Regions from separate parts of the Homo sapiens genome. Here all the other regions are linked to region 2. Evidence: fine-mapped expression QTL. A gene starts in region 2. Each other region holds a variant in brackets. All regions are shown on one strand. Distances are from middle to middle.

Region 1 (4,204 bases), 270 kb before region 2:
AATATTTTTGGCTTTCACTTTTTTCTTTCTGCTTTTAATATTCCTTAATGTTAGTGTTTTGCAAGTTTTACTATATTTATTAAGGGGTGGGAAACATTTTGCAAACATTTTGGAATCATTTGGCTTCAGAAAAACACATTTGTTTTGGCCTCAGTCATGGAAACCATTGCATACTTTGGAAGTGTTGGCTGCCAAGATAGAGGTGTTTGGGTTTTGTTTTGTTTTTTTAATCTAGAAGCAAATATTTGGTGCATGGAAAGGTATGATTGTTTTTCTAAATAAGCATTTAGGCATAATTTTAGCTGCTTGTACAGTGGCTGAAAAGCAGAGCCATGGAGAGATCATCAGAACAGAAAGAAAGTGATAGTGTATTTTTTAAGGAAAAGGAAAGGCCACAATCCCTGTCCTTCCCTGAGTTAAAATCAGGCTGTCTGTCCCCTGGATGCAGAGGGCAAGATGCTGAGGACTGGGGCCCTCCTCCCTTTCTCTGGCTACCCAGGAGGCACTTGGGGCTCAGAGCCATTTAAGGTGTGTGTATACAGAGGAGAACACTCCAGCAGCCCACCAGGGACCCCCACCCACTTCTCTTCTCTCCCAGGCCTTGTGCTGTAGATTGGGAATCTCAACTCAAAATGTCTTGTGGGCCCAAGCAGGCAATGTAAATGGATGAGGTGAGTCAGAGACAGTGCCAATTGTTACCAAGGAGAATGTGGGCTCAGATCTTCCTAAACTGTTTTTTTGTTTGTTTGTTTGTTTGTTTGAGATGGGGTCTCACTCTGTCACCCAAGATGGAGCGCAGTGGCGCCATCATGGCTCACTGCAGCCTCGAGCTCCTAGGTTTAAACAATCCTCTTGCCTCAGTCTTCTGAGTAGCTGTGACTGCAGGTGCACATCACCATCCCTGGCTAATTATTTATTTATTTTTTGTAGAGATGGGGTCTCGCTCTGTTCCACAGCCTGGTCTTGAACTCCTGACCTCAGGTTATCTTCCCGCCTCAGCCTCCCAAAGCCCTGGAATTACAGGTGTGAGTCACCATGCCCAGCTGGATCTTCAAAACTTTCTTTTTTTTTTTTTTGAAACGGAGTCTCGCTCTGTTGCCCAGGCTGGAGTGCAGTGGCGCGATCTCGGCTCACTGCCAGCTCCGCTTCCCGGGTTCACGCCATTCTCCTGCCTCAGCCTCCTAAGTAGCTAGGACTACAGGCACCTGCTACCACGCCCAGCTAATTTTTTTGTACTTTTAGTAGAGACAGGGTTTCACCGTGTTAGCCAGGATGGTCTCAATCTCCTGACCTCGTGATCCACCCGCCTCGGCCTCCCAAAGTGCTGGGATTACAGGCTTGAGCCACCGCGCCCGGCCCAAAACTTTCAAAGAAACTGAAAATCTGGATCTCGAAACAAAACCTCCTGGCTTTTAAATGATGACAATTAAGGTTTCAAATGTATTTTCAACAATCTGTGGGCCAAAGAGCATTTCTCAGGCTGCACTCAGCCCACGAGAGGCAGATCCCAGCCTGTGTCTTCGTTCCATGATTCTGTTCCATGGCTTTGCATAGGCTGATCCCCTAGGTGGGAGCGCCCTTCCCTGCTCTTCTCCAGCTGTTGACTCCCTGATTTTTTCAAATGCTGCCTGCTCTGGGAAGCATTCCATAGCCCTGTAGAATGCTTCCTAGAGCTGGCAGCATTTGGAAAATGGAGGCTTTGCTCCTTTCCCTGTGCCCTTCAGCAGCCTGCATAACTCTCTCCCCGAACTCATCACTTTGTGTTGTAATAGCCAGGTCAGCATGGGTCTCCCCAATGAAACTGGGGATGGGAGACAGCTTTATGAGCAGGGCCAGGGTCTGCTTCATCTTGGAGCCCTGATTCCCCAGCCCCTGGCCCAGCACAGAGCAAGTCCCAAACTGACTCTTTTTTTTTTCTTTTTAAACAAATGAAGAAACCATGGAGGAAGGGGAGAGAGTGATTCCTGCGCTTGGGATGCACCTGCTCTACCTGCTCTGAGCTTCTGTACAGTATGAAAAGGGTTTTTGCTCAAACTCTCCTCTTTTGGGTGAAGGCTCAGGTGATGGCAGGGGGCTGGGGAGACCGTACTTCGGTCTAACAGCCAAAGGTTCAAACCCAGCCTCCACTGCTTGCAAATTGTGTGAATTTTTTTTAAGCCGTGTGGCTTCTGACAAGCAACTTCACCTCTCTGAGCCTGCAAATGGATGAAAGCTACAAAGGAGTTGGCAGGCCCAGCAGGCACCCTGCAGAGAA[A/G]CCCTTCACTGTCCAATCTCAGACACAGACAGAAGTGGAAAGAACACAGTTCTGGAAGCACTAGAAGCAGGTTGGGTTTGAAAGCCTCTCTTCACAAATGGGGAAACCAAGGCCCATGGGTGGGAAAAGATTTGTCAAGGCCCCACTCAGAGCGTGGTAGCAGGTACTGTGGTTTCCATTTTCTGGGAACCTCCCAAGGTTAGCAGAGTATTTGACCACAGGAGGTTCCCCAAAGGTGTGATTTCTCTTCCCTTTTAAATCCAGATATCAAAACATGAACATATTTAACATCAGATCTCCTCCAGCCCCATCTCCCGCCTCCCTCAGTGAAGAATCACTGTCTTGAACCCTCTCTAAGCCACCAAGATCCGGGAATCAGACATAATTGCTGAATTGAATTAAATCACATCTACTGTTCCAAAATGGATTCATTGGGTTGGGAGGGCCCTTCAAGACCAGGAACGTCAATGCCACCACAAATGTACAGATCGGGAAACTGAGGCACTTAGAGGGAAACTGACTTGCTCAAGGTCTCTCTGCAGCTGGCAGAGTGAGGGTAACAGGTGGCAGGTATTGATGCTCCTGACCCTACAGTAGCCCAGCTTGGCACAGATCAGCTGGATCCCTTTACAGGGAAGTTCCTTCCGGCCAATCACCCAGCCGCTGTCCGAGGTGCTGAAAGCCTCTCTCTATAGGACTCACAGGTCCGCCCAAAGCCAACTGTCTGTCTGCCCAACCTTGACCTCTGCCCTCCAGAAAGAAAGGAAGCTTGAAGAGTGGTGGAAAATGAATCAGGGATGGCGCTAAGAAATCGGGCTTTGGAAACCTGTCAGCTAGTGACACTCTCATCGCTCTTCTAGGTCCACAAATCTCTACCATGAGAGGGCTTCAGAGGTGTCATCACATATGGGAATATCTGTTTACTGGTTTTCTCCTCATCTTGCCTTTGAGGCATGTGTCACAGGAGGACAAAGGCCAGCTCTGCTTTCCCTCACAGTTGCATCCCTGCATCAGCATGGTCCCAGGCACAGCGTTGAAAGCACGTGTCTGCAGAATGAGTGAACGGTGGAGGGCTCAGGAGGAAGGGCAGGCTTGAGTGGGACGGACCCGTATGGAGGGAAGTTTGTGTCTTCTGGTCTACCTCAGGCGGGCTGTTTTAGGAGATTGAATGGGGGCCATCTATCTCTCCACTGGGGTCATCCTCAGGGATTCCACGTTTCTGAGCCATAACATTCTCTTTGTCTCTTTCTTGCCCTTGGGATGAGACAAAGTCCACTGCACCTGCCACCTCTCCCCAGGGCCCCTGATTCCTCAGTCCTTTATTTAGACATGTGTTGGGCATGTATTGTGTGTCAGCCTCCACACTGGCTGCTGGGTTTACAGACGTGAGTGAGATGCGGCCCTCCCCCCGGGTGCTCACAGGCACACATATGAAGAGATGACAAGACCAGACATGCCTCCCACTCCTGCTGTGTGCCAGGAACCATTCAATGTGCTTCCTGTCCATGGACTCATTTAATCCTCAAAAATACGAGTTAGGTGCCATTATTATCCCCATTTTACAGGTGAGGAAACCGAGGTCCAGATAAATTAAGTCATTGTTTCAAGGCCTCACTGCTGAGACTTGAATCTAGCCAGCTTCACTCCAAAGGTTGGGCTCTCATCAACAGATACTTAGATTTAAAACTATGCAGCCATTAAAAAACAATGAAATCTGCTGGGTGCAGTGGCAGTGCCTGTGATCTCAGCACTTTGGGAGGCTGAGGCAGGTGGATTACTTGAGGTCAGGAGTTCAAGACCAGTCTGGCCAACATGGTGAAAACCTGTCTCTACTAAAAATACATAAATTATCTTGGTGTGGTAGCAGGTGCCTGTAATTCCAGCTACTTGGGAGGCTGAGGCAGGAGAATTGTTTGAACTCGAGAGGCAGAGATTGCAGTGAGCCGAGAT
Region 2 (4,204 bases):
CATCCCAACCCCATCCAGTATGCACCCGGCAAATGTTTATTGAAGACCTACTATGCGCTAGACATTACTGGGAGGCAGCAGTGAACAAGACCAACCGGGCTGGCCCTCACAGAGTGACATCCTATGGGGAGTGGGGACTATAAGCTAGTGACCAAAAACAGGCCCCAGAAAATGTCAGGGAGTGCCAAGTGTGGCAGGGAGATAAACGCAGTGGTGAGATCCAAAGATGGAGACCCTCCCTCCAACGGGGAGCTCACAAGGTTGTCCCTCCTCAGTATCCTGACATGGAAGGCAGGTGGGAGAGTCCCAGTGAAAGGAGCCCCTGAAGAAGGAGGTGGGGCGGGGAAGGGCATTCCAGACAGAGGATGCAGCCTGTGCAGAGGCCTGGAGCTTTTCACTGGGTTCGCTTCACAGCTTCCTCCCTCTGCCCTCTAAACCACTTAGGCCACTGGCTTATTTAGGGCAAACTAAGGGTGGAGGTCTGCTGTAACCCACCCTTGAGCACACACATATGTGTGGTGTCCACACTGAGGAGCTAGGCATGCAGGGAGGAGTTTTAACCTTGGAGAAAGAGGTCAATTCACTCAGGAGGGTGTCCATGCCTGGACACCCGCTCAGAGATACCACGTCTTTCGGGCCAGCTCTACCTGCTGTGTGGCACAACCAGCTGTCCGGCAGCTGTCCCCTGGGCCCTGCCACAGCCCGGCTGTCTGCCTCCAAAACACGCACTCCAGCCCAGGCTGCCTCTGGAGGGTAGAGGAGGGGGTCCAGGCAAAGGGGACAGTCTGATCTGCCTTCTGAAAAGTCAGTCCCCCACCGAACCTAATAGGAGCCTTGTGCTAAGCTAAGCCCTCCTGGACTCCTCGACCCGGAGTTTGCCCAGCTGTCCCCAGTTCCCTAGCCTGCCTCTCCCAGGAGGGGGCCAGGATACAGAGGGCTCCCTGGCGTCTGGCAATAGGGGTGCCTCTGGGCGGGTGCGGCTTTCCGGGAGCCCGCGGGACTCCCCCACTCCCCACTCCCGTCTGGGAGGTTCGGCGTGGGTTGGCGATGGGGGTGGAAGGCTCCCGGGTCTGTGGATCTGCGGCAGGAGGGGCGGCTGGTAGCAGGAGTCCCTGCATCACCCCCACCCCCAGGGGCGTTCCGGGGTGGGTGGGGGCATCTAGTGCCCCGCGAAAGGAAGAGGAGGAGGGGGCGAGCGTGGAGATGAGTTCAGGAGCGGAAAGCAGCGCGCGCCCCTCCGACCGGCAGCGGGGGTGGGCGCCTTCCCGGGGCGCGGGAGCGTCCCCAAAGCCGCGGGGCGTCCGCAGCGGGTAGGAGCTCTGCCTTGCACCTCTCCACGGCGGGGCGTCCCGCACGTCCCCCCATGCTGGTCCCCGGCCCCGGAACGGCGCGCGCCCCCTGCCCCGGAACGTCGCCCCTAGCCAGGCGGAGCGCTGGGAGCTGGGCCCAGGCGGCGGGAGGAGGGCGAACGGGTCCGGGGCTCGGGCCTCGATGGCCGCGCCGCCCCGGGGGAGCCGGAGCCGAGCTGGCCGCCGCCCGCGCGCACTCACCAAGCCCGCTGAGCTCCTCCTCGCACGAGTACCAGATGCCGGTGTGGAAATTCCTGAAGAGGAAGCGGTCGTCGCCGGTCTCCCAGCTGTAGAGCGCGCCGCCAGGGGGGCCGTTCCCCGAGGCGGTGGCGGCGGCGGCGGCGGCGGCGGGGGCGGCGGTGCCGTTGGCCGTGGCGTTGGCGCCCGAGTTGGGGCAGTTGGCGCGCCCGCCCTGGCCGCAGCCCGGCTTGGGGACCCGCTGCGTGCCCTGGCACCAGTGCGTGGTGAGGAAAGCGGTGGTGGCGAACAGCAGCGCCAGCAGGTTCAGGGCCACGGCCAGGAGCGCTCGGCCGCGGCGGCTAGTCTTCATGCCGCCCGCGCCGCCGGGACGGGACTGCACCGCCGGGGAGCTCCGCGCGCGAAGTTGGCAGCTGGCGCCCCGCGTCAGCGGCCGCTGCCCGCCGCGCCCCGGGGCTCGGGTGCCTGAGATCGGCGGCGGCGGACGCGGCGCGGGCCCATGCCCCCCCCAACCCCGGGGTGGGGGCGCGGCGCGGGGGGCGTGCGGGGCGGGCTGGCGGGGCGGGCGGCGGTGGAGGAGCGGCTACGGCGCGCCCGGAGCCCGGAGCGCGAGTGCACCTCGGCTAGGAGCCGCTGGCGCCTGGCAGCGGCCACGGCGCAGGGACGCGCGCCCCTCCGTGGGGAGACACCTGCAGGCGGCCGGCGACACTGTTCCGGAGCCCGCCCGCACGGGGAGAGGGGGCCGCCACGCCGGGCGCGGGCGGGGGCCTGGGAGTGGAGGGACGCCCCCGAAAGAAATCCGAGCCAGGGTGAGGGTCTGAGACGCAAGGAGAATCCCAGGCAAGGCGCTCCTGAGAAAAGATCCCCACGGCGGACGTGGGGCAACAAAACCCGCCGGGAGCGGGCATCTCATGAGACCCAGAGAGGCCCTGCCCCAGGAGACAAGGGCAGAGCCTGCTGGGGCTCCCCAAGAGGGACACGGACCAGCAGGACCCTGTCCCAGAAGGGGATCCCCAAAAGGACCCCCGCACCAGACCCTGAGAAAGGAGTTTTTCCAAAGGTTCTAAACAGCAGAGCCTGCAGGGCTTCCCACAGCCAGGGAGCTGCAAGACCCCCTGGATAAGACAACCCATGCTGGACTTGGAGTGGCAGAATCTGTCAGGAGGCGCCCCTCCTGGAGTATTGGGTTATAGGGTTTGAAACGTTTTTCTGTCTCCTGGGTGTCACCTCCAGCATCTGGGAAGAGCTCCCCTCCAAGGATGAAACTGTCATCTGGGCTCCCAACCATGGCATGCAACTGCAGGAAGAGTGGCAACAGGGTACCCCAGACAGCCCACTGCACCCACCTGAGATCCCAAACAGCAGAACCCTAGGAGGGCCCATGCCGGCCACAAAGTTATTGCAGCTACCAGGCAGTGGTGCCCTACAGGGGCTGCCAACCCTGCTCACATGCACACCATGTGAATGTGGGTAGAATCTTCAAGATTCGGGTGGGGGCAGGGTGGCCAAACATACTGACTTTGGGATCAAGCATATCTAGGGCTTGACCAGCTGTGTGGCTTTGAACAGGTCACTTACCCTCTCTGAGCCTCAATTTCCATAACTATAAAAAAGGGAGGACCCCCCCCCCTTCAAGGTATATCACAGTGGGCTGCTGTAATGAGATCATGGCTGCAAAAAGCATTTGGCACACAGTAGACTCAATTAATAATTCACTGTTACTGACATCTGAACCAAGATCAGTTGACCAAACTCAGACAAACCTCTTCAGGCTCTCCTGTGCAACGTGGAAACTGTGTGCAACCCCGTCCCCACCTCTGCTCTAAGATGACCACGCTCCCTGAACTCCCTTCGCGCTGCACAGCACTTACTGCCCAGATGCTCAGGGCGTGCAACAATTAATTGCATGTTGATTATAAGAGCTCATTTGAATTCTGCCCAAGCTGAGAACTGCTCCGACAACCCCCGGCTTGCCGAGTGGCAGGCCTTGCAGAATTCAAGGTTAACCGATTATGAATTGCCTTACTCCTGTGGGTGAGCCGGCACCCACTGTCAGCTGCTGCTAATCTGCCGGGGGGTAGGTGAGAGGAAAACGTTGTGGGCAACGTCCCTGGTAAGAGCAGGCACGAAGGATGGCCAAGGGTCTCCAAACTTGCTTTTAGAGCCCTTTTCTGGCACTGTGCAAGAGATTCTCAACTATTTTGAAAGAGAGGACCTCCATGTGATAATGGTGGCATTGAGAGTATTGGTTGACAGAGAAAATACATCATCGCCAAACAGCTGTAAAGAATCCAGTAGCATCTTTTTTTTTTTTTTTTTTTTGAGATGGAGTCTCACTCTGTCGCCCAGGCTGGAGTGCAGTGGTGCAATCTCAGCTCACTGCAACCTCCGCCTTCTGGGTTCAAGCGATTCTCATACTTCAGCCTCCCGAGTAGCTGGTATTACAGGCGCTTGCCACCACGCCTGGCTATTTTTCATATTTTTAGCAGAGACGGGGTTTCACCGTGTTGGTCAGGCTTGTCTCGAACTCCTGACCTCAAGTGATCTGCCCGCCTCGGCCTCCCAAAGTGCTGGGATTACAGGCATGAGCCACCGCACCCAGCCTCCAGTAGCACTTTTAAACTGGCATGCAGTATTCATCATGAGTGTCTGTGTAC
Region 3 (4,204 bases), 260 kb before region 2:
GTTGGCTTGGATCTCTCGACCCCCAGTGCTGAGGTCTCAGATGTCTGCAAGCTGTGTGCCATCTGCGCTCCCAGCAAATTGGCATTGATATTTATTTTAGAAATACTGTCTGTTTCCATTTTAATAAAGGAAGCAACTCGAGCAGGACTCTATTGGATTTGATTTTGATCTAATAAAAATGCCAAGTTGCTCTGGGTCCAGAAAAATTCTTTCTTGAAATTCCCTCTGCTATTTTGAGGGCAGCAGCAGTGGCAGAGACCCATCTAGATGGAGCTCCCAGAAGCCACCTCCGCGCCCAGCATGCGACAGCCTCTCGTGGAGCCCAGCCTTACAGATACACCTGGCAAAATCAAAACCTTGTCTCAGGCATTGAACTTGACAGCTGCAATCAACTGCAAACCTCAGTCGCCCCTGAAAGGAAGATGCAGACACCTGGGCCATATGGCAACATCGCCTCCATCAAATGTCACGTCTGATGTGCTCCTGAGCTGGCTGGTGGCGCCACAAAGCCCCAAAGGCAGGTTTCAAAAGCAACTTCCTCAGGAAAAAAAAAATTATAGCCAAATCCATATCACAGTAGCCCCCCAGAATAACATCTTTGGGGACAGTTAGGATAACCAGAAGTTTATGTAATTGCTAATATAAAAGTGGCTTCTCAGATGGGAGGTGGTGGGAGAAACGTGGAGGTTGACAGCCAACAATTAAGCACCTATTATGTGCCACACACTAGTTTAGACTCTTGGGATATACACAGGAACAAAACACTCAAGGCGCCTGTTCTCATGGCACTTGGTGGAGAGAGGCAGCAAAACGAAAACCAAGCATGTGAACATAAAAGATCATTTCGGAGAGGGACAAATGCTAGGAAGAAAAGAGAACCCGGTGATATGGGGATGACTGGGGAAGCTGGTGCAGATCAGGGAAGGCTTCTCGGAGGAAGCGGCCTTTCAGCTGACTTAAAGATGAGACGAAGTCAGCCACACCATGATTTAGAGGGAGAGCATCCAGGCAGAGAGAACAGCAAGTGCAAGGGTCCTACCAAGGGAATGAGTTTTGCGTGTTCAAGAAAGAGGAAGGTCAGGTTGGCTGGGGCAGCATGGGAGATGGGGAAGAGGCCTACGGGGTTGGGAGCCTGAGAAGGAGTGGCCTCTCTCCCAGGGTAAGGAGCAAGATCTAATTGCCAAGCTGAGTTTTATTGCCGAGTGAACCAGAGATCCCAGCAAAGCTGATTTGCCTTACAGCACTGTATTTCTAGAAGAAGAATCCCCGCTTCTCAGGGCTGGATCAGCCATCAAATGAGATGGCAGAGAAGTGCTTAGCACAGACCTGCACACAGTAAGTGTTTAATAATGCCGGCTCCCTGACATCCCGCCTCCCCCGTTCCTCCTGCCGGCAAGTCAGCCCATCGCAGGATCTGAGCAGCTGCTCCCCGCAGAAATATTGCAAAACTCGTCCAGGCATTTCCAAAATATTTTCTTGGCTGAAAACCCACTAGCAGCTAAGAGGCCGAATTCTGAGACGGCATCATTTCCATACTCATTTGATCGGCTGCTTCTCTAGACCATGAGCTCCAAGAGGACCGAGGCCATGTCTGGAGGCACCCCACATCCTCAGTACCCTGCCCAACCAATGGAGCTGCTGACTGACATCACCTAGCGGTCCAGGGTGTGGGTGATGAGGTCAGACCGGCCGGGTTCAAATCCCAGCTTTGCTACTTTCTAGCTGTGTATTGAGTAAGCCATGGTCTTAACCTCCTGGGCCTCCGTTTCCTCGTCTGTAAAATGGGTCCGTATTTAGGGTTAAATGAGTGAATAAGTGCAAAGTCCTGAGAACATGCACAAAGGTGAGATACTGTGATTAGATCTAGGGGACTGAGTTCTTCTTGCTGGCTGTTTCCGTAATCAAATGCAGGTATCATCATGATAGCCCTGGAGGTCCTGCCAAGGGGTATCACCCTGGCTAAGTCCCCCCTTCCTGCTTTCCCTTTCCTGCACCCCATGTCATCCTGAGTGGGATGAGGCACCATGCCCTGCTATCCCGCACCCTGCATTGACCCCTTTCAAGCTCTGGCCACACAGTGCACGAATGGCTTGGGTCTGTCTCCCCAACAAGACTTGGAAGTCAACAGGGTCCAGCAACGTGCCTTATTCGTCTCCATGCTCCCAGGAGCCAGAGAGGTCTCCTTAGTAATGATTTGTGGAATAAATAAAGCAGCCTGCTTCAGGATCCCTGAAGTCACGGGATCTCTCACGCATGCCAGCATCCAGCCCACATTCCCCTGACCCCTCCCTCAGCTCTGACCACAGAGGGGGTCTCTTCCTTATT[A/C]GCTGTTTGACGTGGGAGTTCCCAGCAACTCCGCTATCCCCAGGGAATGACGGCCATCCCTGCTAATGCTCAGCTACCTGATAAAAGGTACACCTGGCGCAGGGGTTGTGGGGTCTCAGGCTCTTTTCTTCCCTGAGAAGCCAGGATTTGGAAAGTCTCTGGGGGCGACTGACAGTTTTCCACAGCTCTTTCCCCACCGGCCTCTGGCTCCCCTGAACCCCCAGGAGGTTAGGCCCCTTTTGTGTCACTGTGTCTCCCTACCCTACACATTCTCCTCAGATGATCTTTGCAGTCTCTGGGCTTCAACCATCCCATACTGTACTGCAGCCTCAAACTCCTGGGCTCAATCAATCCTCCCCTCCCACTTCAGCCTCCAGAGTAGCTGAGAATACAGGCTTGCACCACCATGCCCAGCTAATTTTAACTTTTTTTTTCAAGATGGGGTCTTGCTATGTTGCCCAGGCTGGTCTCGAACTCCTGGCATCAAATGATCCTCCTGCCTTGGCCTTTCAAAGAGCTGGGATTAAGGCATGCACCACTGCACCTGCCTGTCTCTCTGCCACCCTTTTAAGCTCCCCTCCGTTGATCTGGCTGCCTCCTGGAGGCCCTCACGAGCCCCTCAAACTCCACACAGACAAAGCAACATTGCCCTTCACAAACTGACCCCTCCCCATATCCTTCCATCAGTCAGGGACCCCATGCCCCTGACTGCTTGGGCAAAAATTCTGTGCATATCCTAGGTCCCTCCTCTCCCCCGGTCCTCACTCAAATCAGTCACTTATCTGATGCTGTCCCCCCAGCTCCACGGTGGTGCACACTGCTAACCCCCAACTGTGCAAGGGGGCTTTCTCCATCGCGCCCCAAGCCCCTCTGTCCATGCCCCGAGCCATTACCTCCAGAGAACTCATGCACCCGACCCTCTCTGCGGCAGCCCTTGAACAATGGCCCAGGAGAGTTGCCTTCCTATCTGGGGGGATGGCTCAGATACATATGCTCTGCACTGGTGCCCCCAGCCCCCAGCAGGCTCGACGCTGTGCCTTTGACTGGTCGCCTTTGTCTCCCTTCTTAGTCTCTCTTCCTCACTCCTAGTTGGGTGTTCAATCATCAAAATAAAGCACTTGCTGTTATATCCTCATCTCAAGGGACTTCCAGGGAAACACAAACCAAGACACTCTAGGAATTCTACCAGCAGAGGGTCCTTGAGCTACCCACTTTTATCTCCAACCCCACAGTTCAGGCCGCCACCATCATGTCTCCCAAGAACGACTGCAACAGCAAAACATTTTGTGCATATTGTAGATTACAAGATGGTCTCCTGGTCTCGAGTTTGGCTCTTCTCTGATCCTTTTCCCACAGTGCAGACATATATATATATATATATATATATATATAGATAGATAGATATAGATATAGATATAGATATAGATATAGATATATAGATAGATAGATGGTAGATAGGATAGATAGGATCTGTAGATAGATGATAGATAAATAGGTAGATAGATGACACGATTGATAGATGATGGATGGATAGATTAGATAGATGGTAAGATTTATAGATGATAGATGATTGATGGATAGATGATTGACAGATGAATAATAGATGGATGATGGATGAATAGATAGATTAGATGGATAGATAGATAGATAGATAGATAGATAGATAGATAGATAGATAAAGAAATAGGGAGGGACAGAGAGAGAGAGAGAGAAATAATGTGGACATGTCTTCTCCCTGCTTAAAATGCCCCGGGCTCCCTGCTGCAGAATCAACTTCCCCTCCACTGCATAGCGAACTCCGTCCCTGTCCTGCCTCCTGCCACCGTCGGCCCCTCCAGCTCTCCTGCCCTCCCATTGCCCTCCCTGCCTCAGCCACCCT

Evidence for each region. PIP is the estimated chance that this variant, and not a neighbour inherited with it, causes the effect. A credible set is the group of variants that fine-mapping cannot tell apart.
Region 1: its variant is the best candidate, but not a certain one, in a credible set for the expression of GSG1L in tibial artery (GTEx, PIP 0.57).
Region 3: its variant is the best candidate, but not a certain one, in a credible set for the expression of GSG1L in aorta (GTEx, PIP 0.55).

Annotation. Positions count from the first base shown.
Region 1 is chr16:27,793,273-27,797,476 of GRCh38, forward strand. The region is part of intron 6 of GSG1L (GSG1 like); the gene reads right to left. Among named protein-coding and RNA genes, the nearest start is that of KATNIP, 250 kb to the left of the region's middle. RefSeq lists a silencer at 2,823-3,023. The variant A/G (reference allele first, on the strand shown) is at 2,255.
Region 2 is chr16:28,061,526-28,065,729 of GRCh38, forward strand. It overlaps GSG1L (GSG1 like), which reads right to left and starts at 2,189. Exons shown (of 7, transcript NM_001109763.2): 1 at 1,551-2,189. The coding sequence starts at 1,899.
Region 3 is chr16:27,800,079-27,804,282 of GRCh38, forward strand. The region is part of intron 6 of GSG1L (GSG1 like); the gene reads right to left. Among named protein-coding and RNA genes, the nearest start is that of KATNIP, 250 kb to the left of the region's middle. The variant A/C (reference allele first, on the strand shown) is at 2,326.